Regions from separate parts of the Homo sapiens genome. Here region 2 is linked to region 1. Evidence: fine-mapped expression QTL. Tissue or cell type: whole blood. Region 1 holds a variant in brackets; the other region holds the start of a gene. All regions are shown on one strand. Distances are from middle to middle. Region 1 has its middle 140 kb from the start of LMBRD1. Region 2 holds the start of LMBRD1 (LMBR1 domain containing 1).

The links. PIP is the estimated chance that this variant, and not a neighbour inherited with it, causes the effect.
Region 2: it holds the start of LMBRD1, and the variant in region 1 is fine-mapped to the expression of LMBRD1 in whole blood (INTERVAL, PIP 0.96).

The regions. Positions count from the first base shown.
Region 1 is chr6:69,655,240-69,664,418 of GRCh38, forward strand. No RefSeq gene overlaps it. Among named protein-coding and RNA genes, the nearest start is that of LMBRD1, 140 kb to the right of the region's middle. RefSeq lists an enhancer at 1-347. The variant G/A (reference allele first, on the strand shown) is at 5,192.
Region 2 is chr6:69,792,534-69,801,712 of GRCh38, forward strand. LMBRD1 (LMBR1 domain containing 1) reads right to left here and starts at 4,477. Exons shown (of 16, transcript NM_018368.4): 1 at 4,280-4,477. The coding sequence starts at 4,348. RefSeq lists enhancers at 3,428-3,984, 3,809-3,858, 3,985-4,540, 4,169-4,398.

The DNA of each region.
Region 1 (9,179 bases):
TGTGACACCAGAAAACCACGCTTCCCTGATGGAACTTTGCAACCCTCCAGTCAGATCTCCTTGTGAACCTACTCCACTAGGGCCTTCTGTCTGACAGACAGAGCTATGTGGAGTCTCAGCAAAGCAGCCACTCAGGCATGCATGGAGACCCTGGAGCATTAGCTACTTGAGCTTTCTGGCAAAAGTAGCTGCAACTCTGGCAAAGTGGGATGTTAGACCCCCATACATACCCATAGGAAAGAGGCTGAATCCAGGAGGCTGAGCAGTGACAGTCAGCAGGCCCCACTTCCATGGCATCTCACAAGATGAGACTCACTGGCTTGGAATTCCAGCCAGCCACAAGTAGTGGCATTGTACCTCCCTAAGAAGGAGCTCCCAGGGGGAGACCCAGGCTGCCATCTTTGCTGTTTGGGTGCCTGAGACGTTTCAGCTTTCAGGCTTCAGAGAGTCTGAGCCCACTGGGGGTGAAAGGGATCCCTCAGCACATCACAGCTGCTCTACCAAAACATAGACTGCTACTTTAAGCAGGTCCCTGATCCACTTCTCCTCACTGGGCAGGACCTCTCAAACTGGGCCTCCAGCAACCCCTGCCAGTGTTCTCCAGCTGACAGAGAGTTGAGTTCTCCCTGGGACAGTGTTCCCAGAGGGAGAGGCAGGCCACCATCTTTGCTGTTTGGGCAGCTTAGCTGTTCCAGCCTTTGGGTTTCAGAGTGTCTGGGGAAACTGAGGACTGAAGTAGACTCACAGTACAGCACAGGTACTCTACCAAAATGTGGCCAGACTGCTTTTTTAAGTAAGTCCCCAATTGCATTCCTCCTCACTGGGTGGGACCCCCCAAACAGGATCTCTACCCACCTCCTACAGGTACCTTTGGGATGGCAACAGGCCTGTACCTCCCTGGGACAAAGCCAGAGGGAAGGATAGGCTGCCATCTTTGCTGTTTCATAGGTTCACTGGTGATACTTCCAGGTACTGGAAAATCTAAGGTGACTAGGGACTGGAGTGGGCCCCTAGCATACCACAGCAGCCCTACAGAAAAGTGGAAAGACTGTTATATGGGTGCCCATTCCCCTATCTCCTCACCAGGCAGGTTCTCCAGGCCTGGACTTCCAGCCATCACCCCCCGGATCCACCAGTAGAGCTATTGAGCCAGTAGCAACTCAGCAACTCCATGGACAGAGCCTCCAGGGGCAACTGAAAGCCTCCTCTGCCACTGCCTCTGCAGCAGAACTGTCCTTGCCACCCTCAGACTATCAAAGGAGCAAAGACCCAAAGTGCATTATCCACACCTCCAACATACTGCAGCCAACCCAAGGAGAAGAAGCCAGTCCATCTCCCACGGGTCCCACGTACCCTCCACCGCTTGACACCAGACAGGAAAACCTTGGCTGGGGCCCTCAGCACAGACCCTTCATCCTGGGCTGATTGCACTGAGCGATTACTGACCTGCATCTCCCTGAGTTGGAGCCCCCAGGAGACAAGCAAACACCCCTTGGCCATAATCATACTAAAGTCTCTTGCTCGCTGCCTCCAAGATGGGGAAGGAACATAAATACTGAGATCACCCCAGAGCTGCAGTGGGCAGCCCAGGAATTCCAAGTCACAGTCTACAGCCAGCACTCAAGGAGGAAAGGAATCCACACTTTCAGAGCATTGAAAGGGAACGTGGCTGCAACTGAGAGAACATAGGGGAGCCACATAACTAAGCAAAAGTCCACCAACTGACCAATAAGTCTAAGCACCACCTGCTGGATCACACCCCAAAGCTTCAACACCAAAAACACCTCACTAACATACCCCCCTCTGAAACCAGAGACAAGAAGTCAGCTTCAAATAAAGACCCTGCACAAAACCTCAGCCTGTTGAAAACATCCAGAAAAGAAGAAGAAGAAAAAAAAACTTCCTGCCCAGGGAAGCAGTAGTGAATGAATGTGTGACCCCAGAATACTACGCTTCTCTGATGGATCTTTGCAACCCTCCAGTCAGGAGATCTCCTTGTGAACCCACTCCACTAAGACCTTCAGTCTGTGCTCAATCTATGCTGCAATTAAAGGAACATCCACATGTGGAGATGAGAAAGAACCAACACAAGAACTCTGGTAACTCAAATTGCCAGAGTATCCTATGTTCTACAAACGACCTTACCAAATCTCCAACAAGAGTTCTTAACCAGGCTGAACTGGCTAGAATGAGAGAAATAGAATTCAGAATATGGAGAGGAATAAAGATCATTGAGATTCAGGAGGGCAGCAAAACTCAACCCAAGGAAAATAAGAATCACAATAAAGTGATACAGGAGCTGAAAGACAAAGCTGGTATAAAAAAGAACCTAACTGTTCTGACAGAGCTGAATAATACAATACAAGAATTTCACAATGCAATCACAAGTATTAACAGCAGAATAAACCAAGGTGAGGAAAGAATCTCTGAACTTGAAGACTGGTTCTCTGAAATAAGACAGTCAGACAAAAATAAAGCAAAAAGAATAAAAAGGAATGAACAAAACCTCCAAGAAGTATGGGATTATGTAAAGAGGCCAAATCTATTAATCACTGGCATCCCTGAAAGAAAGGGGGAGAAAGCAGACAATTTGGAAAGCATATTTCAAGATGTTGTCCATGGAAACTTCCCCAGCCTTGCTAGAGAGGCTAACAGTTAAATTCAGGAAAAACAGAGAACTCCCACAAGATTGTACGCAAGACATTCATCCCCAAGACACGTAATCATCAGATTTTCCAAAGTCGAAGGTAAAGAAAGAATGTTAAAGGCAGCTAGAGAGAAAGGGCATGTTACCTACAAAGGGAACCCCATCAGGCTAACAGCTGACCTCTCAGCCAAAACCCTACAAGCCAGAAGAGATTGGGGGCTTATATTCAACATTCTTAAAAAAAAAAAAAAGTCTTCAACCAAGAATTTCATATCCAGCCAAACTAAGCTTTCTAAGTGAAGGAGAAATAAGATCCTTTTCAGATAAGCAAATGTTGTGGGAATTCATTACCACCAGACCTGCCTTACAAGAGATCTTGAGAGGAACGCTAAATCTAGAAGGGAAAGACCACTATCAGCAAATACAAAAACACACTTAAACACACAGACCAATGTCAGTGTAAAACAACCACACAAACAAGCCAACATAGTAACCAGCTAACATCATAATGACAGGATCAAATTCACACCTGTCAATACTAACCTTGAATGTAAATGGGCTAAATGCTCAACTCAAAGGCCCAGAGTGCCAAACTGGATAAAAAAGTAAGACCCAATAGTATGCTGTCTTCAAGAGACCCATCTCACATGTAATGTCACTCATAAGCTCAAAATATAACGATGTAGGAAAATCTGCCAAGCAAATAGAAAACTGAAAAAAGCAGGGGTTGCAATCCCAATTTCAGACAAAACAGATTTAAAACCAGCAAAGATTTAAAAAAAAAAGACAAAGAAGGGCAATACATAATGGTAAAGGGTTCAACTCAATAAGATCTAACTATCCTAAATGTATATGCACCCAACACAGGAGCACCCAGATTCATAAACCAAGTTCTTAGAGACTGTATTAGTCAGGGTTCTCTAGAGGGACAGAACTAATAGGATAGATATAGAAATAGAGGGGAGTTTATTAAGTATTAACTGACATGATCACAAGGTCCCACAATAGGCCATCTGCAAGCTGAGAAACAAGGAGAGCCAATCCAAGTCCCAAAACTGAAGAACTTGGAGTACGATGTTCGAGGGCAGGAAGAATCCAGCATGGGAGAAAGATGTATGCTGGGAAGCCAGGCCAGTCTCATCTTTTCACATTTTTCTGCCTGCTTTATATTCTAGCCACACTGGCAGCTAACTAGATGGTGCCCACCCAGATTAAAAGCAGGTCTGCCTTTCCCAGCCCACTGACTGGAATGTTAATCTCGTTTGGCAACACCCTCACAGACACACTCAGGATCCTTCAATCCAATCAAGTTGACACTCAGTATTAACCATCACAGAGACCTACCAAGAGACATAGACTCCTACACAACAATAGTGGGAGACTTCCACACTCCACTGACACTATTAGACAGATCATTGAGGCAGAAAATCAACAAAGATATTCAGGACCTAAACTCAACATTGCACCAAATGGATCCGATAAGCCTTTACACAACTCTCAACCCAAACAAACAAACAAACAAGGAAAAAACAGGATAAACATTCTTCTAATCATCACCTGGCAAATACTCTAAAATCTACCACAAAATTGGACATAAAACAATCTTCAACAAATGTAAAAGAACTCAACTTATACCAAACACACCCTTGGACCACAGTGCAATAAAAATAGAGGTCAAGACTATGAAAATTGCTCAAAATCATGCAATTACATTGAAATTAAACAACATGCTTCTGAATGACTTTTGGGTAAATAATTAAATTAAGACAGAAATCAAGAAGTTCTTTGAAACTAATGAGAACAAAGATACAACATACCAGAATCTCTCAGACACAGATAAGGCAATGTTAAGAGGAAAATTCATAGCACTAAATGCCCATATCAAAAATTTAAAATGATCTCAACTTAACAACCTAACATCACAATGAAATAATTAGAGAAGCAAGAACAGATCAGCAGAAGATGAGAAATAACAAAAATTAGAGCTGAAATGAAGGAAATTGGGACATGAAAAACCATTCAAAATATCAACGAATCCAAGAGTTTGCTTTTTGAAAAAAAAATAATAAAACAGACCACTAGCTAGACTAATAAAGAAGAAAAGAGAAGAAAACCAAATAAACATGATTAGAAATGACAAAGGGGATGTGACTACTGACTCTACAGAAAAAAAAAAAAAAAAAATAAGAAGCTACTTTGAACACCTCTACACACACAAACTAGAAAACCTAGAAAAGATGGATTAATTCATGGACACATTCGCCCTCCCAAGACTGAGGCAGGAAAAAATTGATTCCCTGAACAGATCAATAATGAGCTGCAAAACTGAATCAGTAATAAATAGCCTAACAACTGAAAAAAGCTTGGGACCTGATGGATTCATAGCCAAATTCTACCAGAGTACAAAAAAGAGCTAGCACCATTCCTACATGCACTATTCCAAAATATGGAGGAGGAGGGATTCCTCCCCAACTCATTCTATGAGGCCAGCATCATCTTGATACCAAAAACCTGGCAGAGACACAACAACATCAACAAGAAAAA[G/A]CTTCAGGTTAACATCCTTAATGAAGATCAATGCAAAAATCCTCAAAAGACACTTGTAAACCGAAATAAGCAATGGTGAAAAGATTCTCTATTCAATAAATGGTGCTGGGATAACTGGCTAGCTATATGCAGAAGACTAAAGCTGGAACCCTTCTTTACACCACACGTAAAAGATCAATTCAAGATGGATTACAGACTTAAAACTATAAAATCCCTGAAAGACAACCTAGGCAATACCATCCTGGACATAGAAACCGGCAAAGATGTTATGAGAAAGACACCAAAAGCAATCACAACAGAAGCAAAAATTGACAAGTGGGATCTAATTAAACTTAAGAGCTACTGCACAGCAAAAGAAACTATCAACAGAGTAAACAGACAACCTACAGAGTGGGAGAAAACATTTGCAAACTATATGTCTGACAAAGGTCTAATATCCAGCATCTATAAGGAACTTAAATTTATAAGAGAAAAACAACCCCATGAAAAAGTGAGCAGAGCACTTGAACAGACACTTCTCAAAAGAAGACATACATGTGGCCAACAATCTTATGAAAAAAAGCTGAACATCAGTGATCATTAGAGAAATGTAAATCAAAACCACAATGAGATACCATCTCACACCAGTCAGAATGGCTATCATTAAAATGTCAAAAAATAACAGATGCTAGCAAGGTTTCAGAGAAAAGGGAACACTAATACATGGTTGGTGAGAGTGTAAATTAGTTCTAACATTGTGGAAAGCAGTATGGCGATTCCTCAAAGAGCTAAAAGAAGAACTGTCATTAGACCAGCAATCCCATTACTGGGTATACACCCAGAGGAATGTAAATCATTCCACCGTAAAGACACATGGCACGTGAATGTTCATTACAGCCCTATTCCCACCAATAGCAAAGACATAGAATCAACCTAAATTTCCATCAATGACAGATTGGATAAAGAAAATGTGGTACATTTACACCATGAAATACTATGGAGCCATAAAAAGGAACTAAATCACGGCTTTTGTGGGAACATGGGTGAAGCTGAAGGCTATTATCCTTAGCAAACTAACACATGAACAGAAAACCAAATACTGCATGTTCTCACTTATAAGTGGGAGTTAAATGATAAGAACTTATGAACACAAAGAAGGAAACAACAGACATTGGTGTCTACTTGAGGGGGGAGGCTGGGAGGAGGGAGAGCAGCAGAAAAGATAACTATTGAATATTGGGCTTAATACCTGAGTGAGGAAATAATATGTACAAGAAACCCACATGCCACGTGTTTGTCTATGTAACAAATCTTCACATGTACCCCCAAACCTAAAAGTTTAAAAAATAAATAAATCATAAGGAGAAAATAGAACACAAAATGGACTTTCTGAAAAAAAGCACTTGTAATTTGATTTTAACATATTTACCATATAATCATGTATAAACTCAATCATTTAATTAAAATTTAAATATATACATATATAATATATATGTATAATAAGCAATTAAAAATTTCAACAGACAAACTAAAAGAGAAGATGGTCAAAGCCGAGAACAGTCTTATTAGTCTGGAAAGAGTCAAAAACACAGAATTAAACAGAGAGAGCTGAATAGAATAGAAAGGACAAAGGAAGGGCTGTTTTAAAAACCTGGAAAATATGGAGCCTTTTCAGGGAGCCATCTGAATAAATCATCTCCATTAGTTTCCTTCTTTCTTCACTTTTCACTTTTCTTGTGCTGCTGATCTAGGGCCCAAACTTGGAAACCACAAGGCTACAGAAGTCAAAGTACCAAAATAGTACAAAGGCTGCCTCTTTGCCTTGTAAATGTAACTTAGTTTTAATGATACAAATTTCACACACACACACACACACACACACACACACACACACGCATATCCCATACACAAGTAGAAATTTGAAGTTATTTAGAATGAGAAAGATCACAGAAACATCAAATCACCATACCAACCAGCATTTCCCTTTTTTCCAAAAGTGAGGACACAGTACAAGTCTAACATGAAAGTATTATCCAAGTTTGCAAGATTCCATTACTTTTTAAGTTATCAAAAGCATAAACTGATGCTTATGTATACCCCAGATGTGTCTCCCTGAACAACTTAAATTTCCAAAAAGTTGTTTTCATAGTGAATTTCTAAAAAAACGAAGGCATATCCTGCCCCCACTTTGATCCTTTTAACTATAGATGCTTTCCTTTTAAAATTGTTTATTCCAAATCTTAATAAAAATGGAAAAATAAGATTAAACATTCAGGTAAAAAGAATGTTTTCAAAAAGTGGATTTGTGTGATGTTTTTAGCATTATTTACAATAATGCACTAACTACACTATATCCAAATTGTAAAGCCTTACAGCTTGAGGAAGATAAGAGAGATTGGGGAACAGGAGTGGAAGCTCTGTTAGTGATTTCAGCAGGTAAGCTAATGGAGCAGTGTGCTTCTCTAGTATGAAGGAATCTATTTACTGCCTGTAAATATTTATTTTTAAAATCCTAACATTGTAAGTCAAAGCCCAGTATTAATATTTCCCAATCCTTTACCTTTGACAGTGTTTATCCAAAGTTTTTTGTACTTAAAAGGATTTTTGCTTATTTGTTTGCAAAAATCCTTACTTCTTTCATGTCTGATTCTCGATGAGGTGGAATAAACAGCCCTACTTGGCATTCTGGTCAGAAAAAATTTAGGAATTTTTTCTGACTGATTACTTGCTTGTTGGGTACAGCTATGAGTTTAAATAAAACTATATACATGTGTCTCACGAGGTGGGGTCTAGGACACCTGCTGATGGCTGGGAAACACCATCACAGATCAAATGGCTCACAATGATATAAAGAGCTTCTTTGGAGGGAAGGTCACAAATTATTTGCAGTGAAGATGATGAGAGATTCTGGAAACAATGTCACCAACCAAATGTGTACAGAAGGTTTCACAATGAAGGCTGTCGATATTATTGGCCTCACACTGTCATTTACAGTCATCACATCTGTGCTTTTCTGAGAGCTCTTGAGTGAGCCCACTTATGAGATGTGACTTCCTCAAAGTTGTGACAGGATTCTGTTTTGTGGTCCTTACTAGTCTTTGTAATTCCAGCTTCATCCAGAATCTGGCACGCAGTAAAAGCTCACCACATGTTTCTGAGTGAAGGAGAGCTCTGCATTTGATAACTGTAACTCCTTATAAAATTGTTGTTCTCAGGCAAATAATATCATAGGAATGCTGCTGTAAATATAAAGAAAGATTTATCCTGAAAGATTCATATATCACAGCTAGACTACCTCTTCAGTATCTATTAATTGAATATCAGACAAGAGACTCCTTAAGGTCTCTACACTCTCAAAAATTGTGACTCTTGAAACAATTGCCAAAGTTTATTTTCATGGAAAACATCTGCTGTGCCTAAACGACTAAACATTTCCAACAGACATAATTTTTATCCAAGGATGCAGGGGAGAGGGGAGGCTTGGATGAAAGAAATTAGCAAACCATTATTCCAACCACTAAGATAGAGAGATGGTTGGGCAGAATTAGTTCTGTTTGGAGAAATACCAATGTGTAAAATAATAGCAACTACCTTTTATTGGATGCCTACTAAAAGCCAAGGCATTACAGTAGGTGATATGTATACACTATTGAGAATCCTCAGAGCGAATTGCCCCAGATCACAGAGCTAATAAGCAACTGAGTTGCATCCAGGCCCAGGGTCAGCCAGGCTCCACAGTCTTCCAGTACTTCTCTAGGGGCTGTTCCAGTAAAGCCAAGGTGGAGAGAGGGATCAAGCGAGGTTGCTGAGCAGCAGCAAACGAAAGGGGGATGGAGGTAGGGTGCTGAGAATGGGTGGAAATGAGACTGGGATACTGAGATGGAGGACTAAGCAAAAACCAGGTATGACAAAGGCATATGACAAAGAGAAATGACAAAGGCAAGGTTGCTCATGCTAGTTGTTAAAAACCAGTCAAGCTCCTGGGCCAATAGTTTAAATTGCTACTGCA
Region 2 (9,179 bases), 140 kb after region 1:
AATTGACTGAGAAGGGAGTTAAGACTTTGGAACAAACAAACAAAAAGGATCTAGGCTCAAATTCTTGATTTTGGGAAATTTATTTTTCATAAAATGTGACTTTGTATTAATATTTGAATGAGCTTGTTTTTAAAGGAATTCATAAATATTTTTAACATTCCCCAAATTCATTCTGAAGTCTTTGAAAGCTGAGTCTCATCTTTATATCCTCAGCAGTACTTGACACAAAGTGTTCCAATAAATTTTTTATTGGATTTCAAGAATGAAAGAAAACCTGCATTTTGTAGGTATTACTGCAAACAAAGGATTTTGCCAATATCAGGCAGACAAGCTAGGAAACGGCAACCAGGCAGAAGAGTTAAGCCAGAGATTCCCAAACTTTTTGGTCTCAGAATCCCTTTATAATGGTTTTAAAACTGATAACCTTAAAGAGCTTTTTGTTCATGTTATCAATCATTACTACAATATAAAATAAAACCAAGTATCCTCGTCTATAGGAATACTTCTTTCATAACAAGTTATAAGGATTAAATGAGATATAAAGGGTTTACCATAGTGGCTGGCCATAGTAACTGCTTAACAAACAGTAGTAGTTATTAGATAATTTGATAAAAGAAACAAATATATAACTCTGTTAACAATTATAAAGAAAAGTTTCAAATAGTCCCCCCAGCTTCTCCCAAAAGATTCAAAATAAATTGGTCTGAACACTGAGATTTTTAAAACTCCCCAGGTGGTTCTGATGAAAGGTCAAGTTTGCAAACCACTGGGGCAGAAGAAGGAATGAGAAGAGATGAATCTTCATTAAACTAATGAGAATAGATGACATACTGTATGGGATCTTGTTAAACTGCAGATCTGATTCAGTAGGACTGGGGTCACATATTTGGTATTTCTAACAAGTTCCCAGATGATGCCCACACTTTAAGGAACAAGAATAAATTTGCTTTACAAAAATGGAGAGTCTCCTATTGTAATGGCAAATACAATTTAAAGGTGGTGTGAGCCAAATTACAGAGGACATTGAAGCTAGATAGAACAGTTTAGATTTGATATAGTAAAGACAGACATAGTTAGATTACAGGCATGAGATACCAAATCTAACAATTCCTTATGTGTGAAGAAACTGAAGTCCATTCTTTTTGCCCACGATCACAAAAGTAGGCAACATTCATGTCCTGAATCTTTTTTTTTTTTTTTTTTTTTTTGAGACGAAGTTTCCCTCTGTTGCCCAGGCACTATCAGAGCTTGCTGCAACTGCCTCCACAAACCACCTCCTGGGCTCAAGCAATCCTCCCACCTCAGCCTTCTGAGTAGCTGGAACCTCAGGCATTTGCCACCTCGCCCGGCTAATTTTTTGTATTTTTAGTAGGAATGGGGCTTTGCCATGCTGCCCAGGCTGGTCTCAACTCCTGAGCTCAACTGATCCACCTGCCTCAGCCTCCCAAAGTGCTGGGATTACAGGTGTGAGCCACCACACCTGGCCCATGTCCTGAATATTTAGTAGATGATTGGCAGAAGTTCTCCAAGTGTGAAATCCCTAGGCCCTGGTAGTCCCCAGAATCCTTTCTGGAGATTCAGAAGTTGAAAACTATTCTCATAATAAATACTAAGATGCTATTTGCCTTTTTCACTGTGCTGACATTTGCACTCATGGTTCATAGCCACAGTGGGTAAAACTACTGGTGCATTAGCGTGAATCAAGACAGTGGCACCAAACTGCACCAGTAATCATTGTATTCTTCACCACAAGTTCAAAAAGGGACAATTTAAATTAAGACTGTGCTTCACAAAGCAGCATAAATTCATTTTATTGAAATTCAACCCTTGACTCTTTTTAATACTTTGTGGGGTAAAATATGAAGCATGCGTACATAAAGTCCTGCTGCATACCAAGATGTGATGGCTATCTCCAGGAAAAGTTTAGAGTTAAAAGCTAAACCAACCACTCTTCAAGGAACACCATTTTTACTTGAAAGAACAATTGTCAAACTGGTTATTCAGACTTCGCTTTTTGGCAGATTTTGTCAAATGAACAAAGGGAATCTATCACTTAAAGAAAAACTGACAGTATTTGATACCAATGATAATTATGAGTCAAACTTTCAAATGAAAATTGGATTTTGAAAGACTTACATCCACAAGTATGAGCTTGACAACTCTTCAATACTTAGAATTTTCAGAGACATTTCTGACAAGATCAGTTGTAATTTAATGAAATGTGATATTTTGATATTGTGTAATGAAACGTATCCATATTTAAAAGATGTGCATAACTCAGTAAACCAACATTTTCTAAGTGGCCATGGCATCATGTTATAAAACCATGCATGGGTAAAAGAGCCTTTCAAAGTGCAAGATGGGCTAATGGATTTTAATGTAACAATGAATGAAATGCTCATTGATAGGGTTTCAGATTCCACCTTGCAGCTGACATGAATCTTCCACTTGTTGAGCTTTGGTGTAGTGTCAAAAAACATCCACAATTATCTGAAAAACGCTCCTCTGTTTCTGACTACCTATCATTGCAGCTGTATTTTCTCCATACACTTCGACTAAAATAACATACCCCAAAAGACTGAATGTAGAAGGCAACAAAAGAAACCAGCCTTTCTTCTAATAAACCAGGATTTAAAGAGATTTGCAGAAATTTAAACAAAAGTCCTTCTTCCTAATGCTTTTATCCACGACAACATTCAATTCTGATTTTATTTGTCCTTGCTGTAATATTGCCAACTTAAATGGCCTCTCTTCTTCATCTATCCAAACTCTACCACAATTCTCATTTTCTTCCAATATTGTTGTCTATTCTCTTAAGTCCTGCTTTATTTATAGTCACACTTTGGCTTTCGGTCCATAAAATACATGTTTCAAGAATTTCAGTTTTCTCACTTATCTTCAGGCCCTCTTTAAAGCCGTATTTTGTTTGGTTTACATCCTCTTACAATTCACACCACTTCTGTACCGTAAATGTTTATTAATTTATAACTGCCAAGATAGTCTCACGTAACTTTCATACATTACATGCTTATTTATTTTTTTCTAAACAAACTAAATCTGATGGACTGGAAAAGCCAGGGGGCTCTCCAAATACAGGACTGGGTGGCTGCAGAGACCACAGTCAACCTTTAGGGTTTCATTTCCTCCAAGAGAGGACTAACATGTTCCAGGGTAAAGGCAGTGTTTTTATCTGTGACAGTGATGGCAGTAACAAGAGGATCCTTTTCTTAAATTTTCACACCATTCTTTTCTTTTATTTTCTTTTTTTAGTCTCTACTGCAAAAATCTACTAGAACATACTACATAGGTACCAGACACCAACTGGATCTGACAATTAAAGTAAAACCAAACAAGCCTGATTTCCAGAACTGGAGGTTTTTGTTTTGCAATGCAAAAAGGTCAAAATACGTGAGAACAGAAAGTAACTACAGCCTCGGACGATGAGAAAAGAGAAGATTTGAGAAGGTAGAGAAGTTATGAAAGGAAATAAATTGAACTCCCAAATAAACCAAAGGGTTTTAATATGAACAGGGAAGTAATAGCCAGGCCACTCTGAGACATTTCTATCTACACTTTGCTCACTGAATATGCAGAAATAAGATCGTTGGAAAAGAAAGCACCTGAGGTCAGACAGGTAGTAGTATATACTCCGATACTGGTAATAAAGAGGGCTACAGCTCCGCCCTCCACAGGTATCTACACCAATCAAAAAAAGATTAGAAGAGAATGTGACACCTGGAAGTCAGAACGAGCAACTCACGTCATCAAGGCAGAATCACACAATGGGCACAGAGGTTGGAGACTCACTAGCCCCAAGGGTAGGGAAAATGAGGGAAAAAACATACAGAGAAGGTGACAAGTAAACAACGCCAGCGCCTACTTAACTTGCAAAGATCCAGCGCTGCCGCCCCACACCGTGTGACAATGTTTTACAGGGGACGAAAGGCCACCACATACTTCTCAACCCCGAGGGTCTCTTCCGCCCCCAAACCCCACCGGCCCCATTGCCCAAGTCAGCGATGACGGCAAGAGCTTCCAAAAAGGACCCTGCAACCCTAGACGTCATCGGTGAAATGACAGCAAAAGAGACCGGAAATCGACACCCCCCTGCCCCCGCCGCCCGCCCAAGCCCCCAACACTAAGGAGCCCTCCACAGTCCAAGCTAAAAGCGGGGCGGGGCGAAGAGGGTCTCCGGGGCCCGGAGAGGCCAACTGCAGGGCCTGCCCCTCCCTTCCTCCCCCAGTCCAAACATGGGGAAAACTCCAAGCGCCTCCCCTACCAGTAGTAAGAGGCCGAATATGCACCAGCCGATCACCAGCTCCGCCGAGGCCGCGCCAGAAGTCGCCATCTTCGCTTCCGGTCCAGACCAACCTGAGCGCCCGGGGTGGGGAAAGGGGAGGGGGAAAGGGGAGAGAGCGCGAGATATACTGCACCCGCGCACCCTAAAGGTTAAAGGGGCGGAGGGGGAGGAGCAAGTGGTTGCCAAGGAGACTGGACCCACTAGCGTCCCCTGGCGGCGAGCCGAGCGGGGGCGGGGCAGCAAGGACTGCTCAGGGGCGGGGCGCGTGCGGACGCAGTGACATCACCACGCTGCCCTCGCTGGCTTCCCTGCAAGCTGAGATGTGGGAGGGCTGCAGAGCAGGGTGTTGGCTCATAGCTGGGCAACCTATTGAGATATTTGACTCAGCCTAAGTTGATAGACTAGAACAGCAAGGGAACTCCACAAAGAATGGGCTAGGTGGACCTGGAGATCCAAGTCAATTTTAGAGGTTTATACTTCTTCACCAAAAGGAAGTTTGGCCCTCGTGTACAAGGTGGAATGTGTGTGATTAGCAGAACTCCTTACCAGGTTGCAAGAATGGCTGATGTCAGGCCTCTGAGCCCAAGCTAAGCCATCATATCCCCAGTGACCTTCACGTATACATCCAGCTGGCCTGAAGCAACTGAAGATCCACAGAAGTGAAAATAGCTTAGCTGATGACATTCCACCATTGTGATTTGTTTCTGCCCCACCCTAACTGATCAATGTTCTTTATAATCTCCCCCACCCTTAAGAAGTTTCTTTGTAATTCTCCCCACCCTTGAGAATGTACTTTGTGAGATCTACCCCCTACCCCCAAAACATTGCTCTTCACTCCACCTCCTATCCGAAAAACTGTAAGAACCAATGATAATCCCACCACCCTTTGCCGACTCTCTTTTCGGACTCAGCCCGCCTGCACCCATGTGAAATAAACAGCCATGTTGCTCACACAAAGCCTGTTTGGTGGTCTCTTCACACGGACGCATGAGACAGCTGACTCTGAATAAAAGTTGACTAGCTGCCCAAATCACTCTAATTTACTGGCACTGGTGCCCAGCCGGGATAACTGGTTGGCTGGACATGAACTTATCACATGATGTTATAGCCTTTCTATTCAGATGTATGCATGCCTGTGAATTTCCATGATAGCTTTGTATGTAAAGGTATATGCATCAGCAAACAAAACACACTGCCATAGGCCCACAATGAAGAAGAAGGAGGAAACTCTTGGGATGGCTTACCTGAGTCCACAGGGAGGAAACTCTTGGGATGGCTTACCTGAGTCCACAGGGGTGTGAGTGCATGTTTCACCACTGTGATGTAGTCAAGAAACAACTCTGAGAAAAAATACCATCATCTTTTTCCAATGTATTATGTGGTGATGAGTTATGCTCTACCTATAATCTACTTCCGGCTGGAAGCCTGAGGGAAAAAATAGGATGGTCCTTCCTGCCTGGACAGAATAAGAAGGGAATAGGGGAGAATACAGTTTTAACTTGAACTGGTACCATCATAAGCTGGCTTTAAGCCCTCTAGACCTGCAAATGTTTGAATTTCACTCTTTCTTCCTAATAATTCATATCCCTGGAGACCTCTGTCATAGCTTCCTTAAAGTGAAGAGAGGTATCGCTTCCAGGTTGATATCTCTATTCCAGATTGTATAGAGCACCCTTGACATAAGTAACTACTTCTTAGAAAAAGATTCTGTTTACATTTCAAAAGGAATCATGCCAAAAGGGACCAGATGTTCACCTAATCAATAGAGACTGCACCCAACCAGATAACGACATAACCAGGCACACTCTTTTATTATTATTATTATTATTATTATTATTATTATTATACTTTAAGTTCTAGGGTACATGTGCACAACGTGCAGATTTGTTACATATGCATACATGTGCCATGTTGAGGTGCTGCACCCATTAACTAGTCTTACATCAGGTATATCTCCTAATGCTATCCCTCCCCACTTTCCCCCACCCTACAACAGGGCCCAGTGTGTGATGTTCCCCTTCCTGTGTCCAAGTGTTCTCATTGTTCAATTCCCACCTATGAGTGAGAACATGTGGTGTTTGGTTTTCTGTCCTTGCAATAGTTTGCTGAGAATGATGTTTTCCAGCTTCATCCATGTCCCTACAAAGAACATGAACTCATCCTTTTTTATGGCTGCATAGTATTCCATGGTGTATATGTGCCACATTTTCTTAATCCAGTCTATCACTGATGGACATTTCAGTTGGTTCCAAGTATTTGCTATTGCAGGCACACTCTTTACTATCAGTCAACACCAGAGGACTCTGAGGCTATAAAAAGAGTAGAACTTCAACAGCTCAAGATAGCCATCTTAACAGACACTGTCTTACTGTCACTCATGATCAGCATCTAGCATCTGCCACCAAAGGTTCTGCTCAAATCAAAGACTCTTCCTTGCAAAATGTTGATATGCATCCTGATCAGCCGAGGACACTCTCCTTGTCCATGTTGCTCTCCTTGGATTGGTTAATCCTGTTTTCCTAACCTTTCTCTTGATGTTAAATGTTATTTTCTTTTAGAATGTTTAGCCTATAATATTTATATGTTATGTATACTACTATGTTTGGTTTGCAATATTGACTGACTTGTGGAGTGGCTAGAGCTTTGTGTCCTTGGTTCTGACTACCAAATGAATGGGTACTACTAAGGAAAATTACCTCCTTCGGACCTTCATACAGCTCATGGCTTTTATGATTGAAATAGCATCAACAAAAGTCTGACTGTGGAAAGACACAAACTTGCAGGGACTTGAGCCACTGACAGGTAGTCACTTATATCTCCTCCACAAGCCCCAGAGCATACTGAGGTATACTTAATTATTCCTTTTCCTGCTGAGGTCTTGTAATCTTCTTCTAGAAGCTCATTTAAGTTGGAGGAGAGGCCTAAGACAACCCCAAGCCAGTTCTTCCCCTTTCCCCAAATAGTCTAAATCCCCTCTGTAGGAATGATGATACATACCTTGCACCAACAACTTTGGGAGCACAGGCCAATCCCAATGTAGCTCCATTCTCCTAGTTCTACAATCAAAGGAATCAGCCCTTTTTGATTATACCCAAGAAAGTCAGCCCCTGATGCTACAGTCCACTGTAGTTCTCTCTACTGGGTCAGACACTAGCCCTCTGTGTCCTCAATTTCAGGGGCCATATTTCAAATTCTCCAAGTAGCTCCCTTGAGGCCTCCCTTACTAGGCTAAGGGTTAGAAGGTAACACCCCACTCCAACCCACCCACCCCTCCACCTCACCCACAAATACACCACTCTTTGGAGTTAAGGATGGAATTCCACAGGTCAGCAACAGTTCTCATTAAATAAATCTGTTTATGAATCTTCTCCTCTTGCTAATACATTTGTAGAAATTTTATTTGTCTGAGGGGTCTAAGAGTTATATAATAAATTCTTGAATCCCTTTTTAATTATGCATATAAGGGAGAATTCATAGTTAGAATGCAGACAAGTAAAAATAAAAATCTGACCCTCCTCCATGGAAGCCCTGGGGCCTCCGTTTTTTCTGGGGACCAGGATCCAGGTCTCCTGCTCACCTGGAGGTAAGAAAGGGAGCCCAGAGTCAGGACCCAGTGAGAGGGTTCTGGAGCTGAAAGGAAAAAGACTCCCCTAAGGATCTTGAGGACAGTCAAAATTTGCTGAAATGTCCCATTTCTGGAGAACCCTACCATCTCCATGACTGCAAGCCCATGTTAGCCTGCTGGAGAATGAGATACCATGGGGAGGAGAGCCAAACTGCTCCAGTTGACAGCCAACTCACACTCAGAAGCAGAGCCGCCTAGTCAACAGCAGCTGATCACATATGCCTGAAGGAGCCCACCTGAGCCCACAAGAATGGCCCAGTTGAGCCCTGCCCAAATGGCTGAGCAACTCCATCATGAGCTAGGAAGTCTTGCATGGTTTGTTATACAATAGCTAAGTAATATATGTACCCAGTATGAATGGGATGTCAGGATTCAATGACAGGTTGATTACTAGTTACCTGCAAACAGAAAGCACCCGACAGGTACAGATTTCATTTTCCCCTTATTTAAAGTTGGATCTCTTGTTAGATGGTGGTGAGTTATACCAAAATGCATGTAGATGTGTGCATGTGATTGGTGCTTAAATTACGCAGTCCGCCATGCCACAGGAGGAAACAGCCATGGCCTGACCATTAGGGCCAAGGCCAAATAGCAAATAGCAAAATAAGAAGTTCACCTTTAATCTATTTCCTCCATACCTAAACTTTGGAGATCAAGGATGTAGACAGATCTGAAGACATTGAGTTTCCTTTTTGAGGGGCCTTATCATCCTTTGTTTACTGTCTGATCTCTGGAAGGAAGATGGACGCCAGGTGGGCAGCAGTGGTAACTGTGGACACTTTCTTCTTGTAAACCCTGCTTTCTAGGGGCAAAAATCTCTCACCCTTGGGCCTGAGGAGAGTTGTTGGGAGGCAGAGGCTGTTCCCTCACTTCTGGCAGGAAAGAGTGTTTCAGGCCCTTCACCTTCCTTAGATCAAGAGAGTCAGAGCCCTCAGAGCTGCACTTCAGTGTGGCAGCCACTAGCCACGTGGGGCTGCTGAGCACATGGAATAGGCTGCTCTGAACTGACATGTGCTGAAAACTTAACATATAGACAGAGTTGCCAAGATTTAGTGCCAAAAGCTATATACTTCATTAACAATTATATATTGATTACATATTAAAATGATAATATTTGGGATATATTGGGTCACATAAATTATTATGATAAAAAATCTTCCCCACTGCTTTAAATTATATGTGAAATTGGAGCTTTTACTGAATCTGGACTAAATATTTTTAACATCTGATGTGCCCTCCATTGAATTAAGTCCA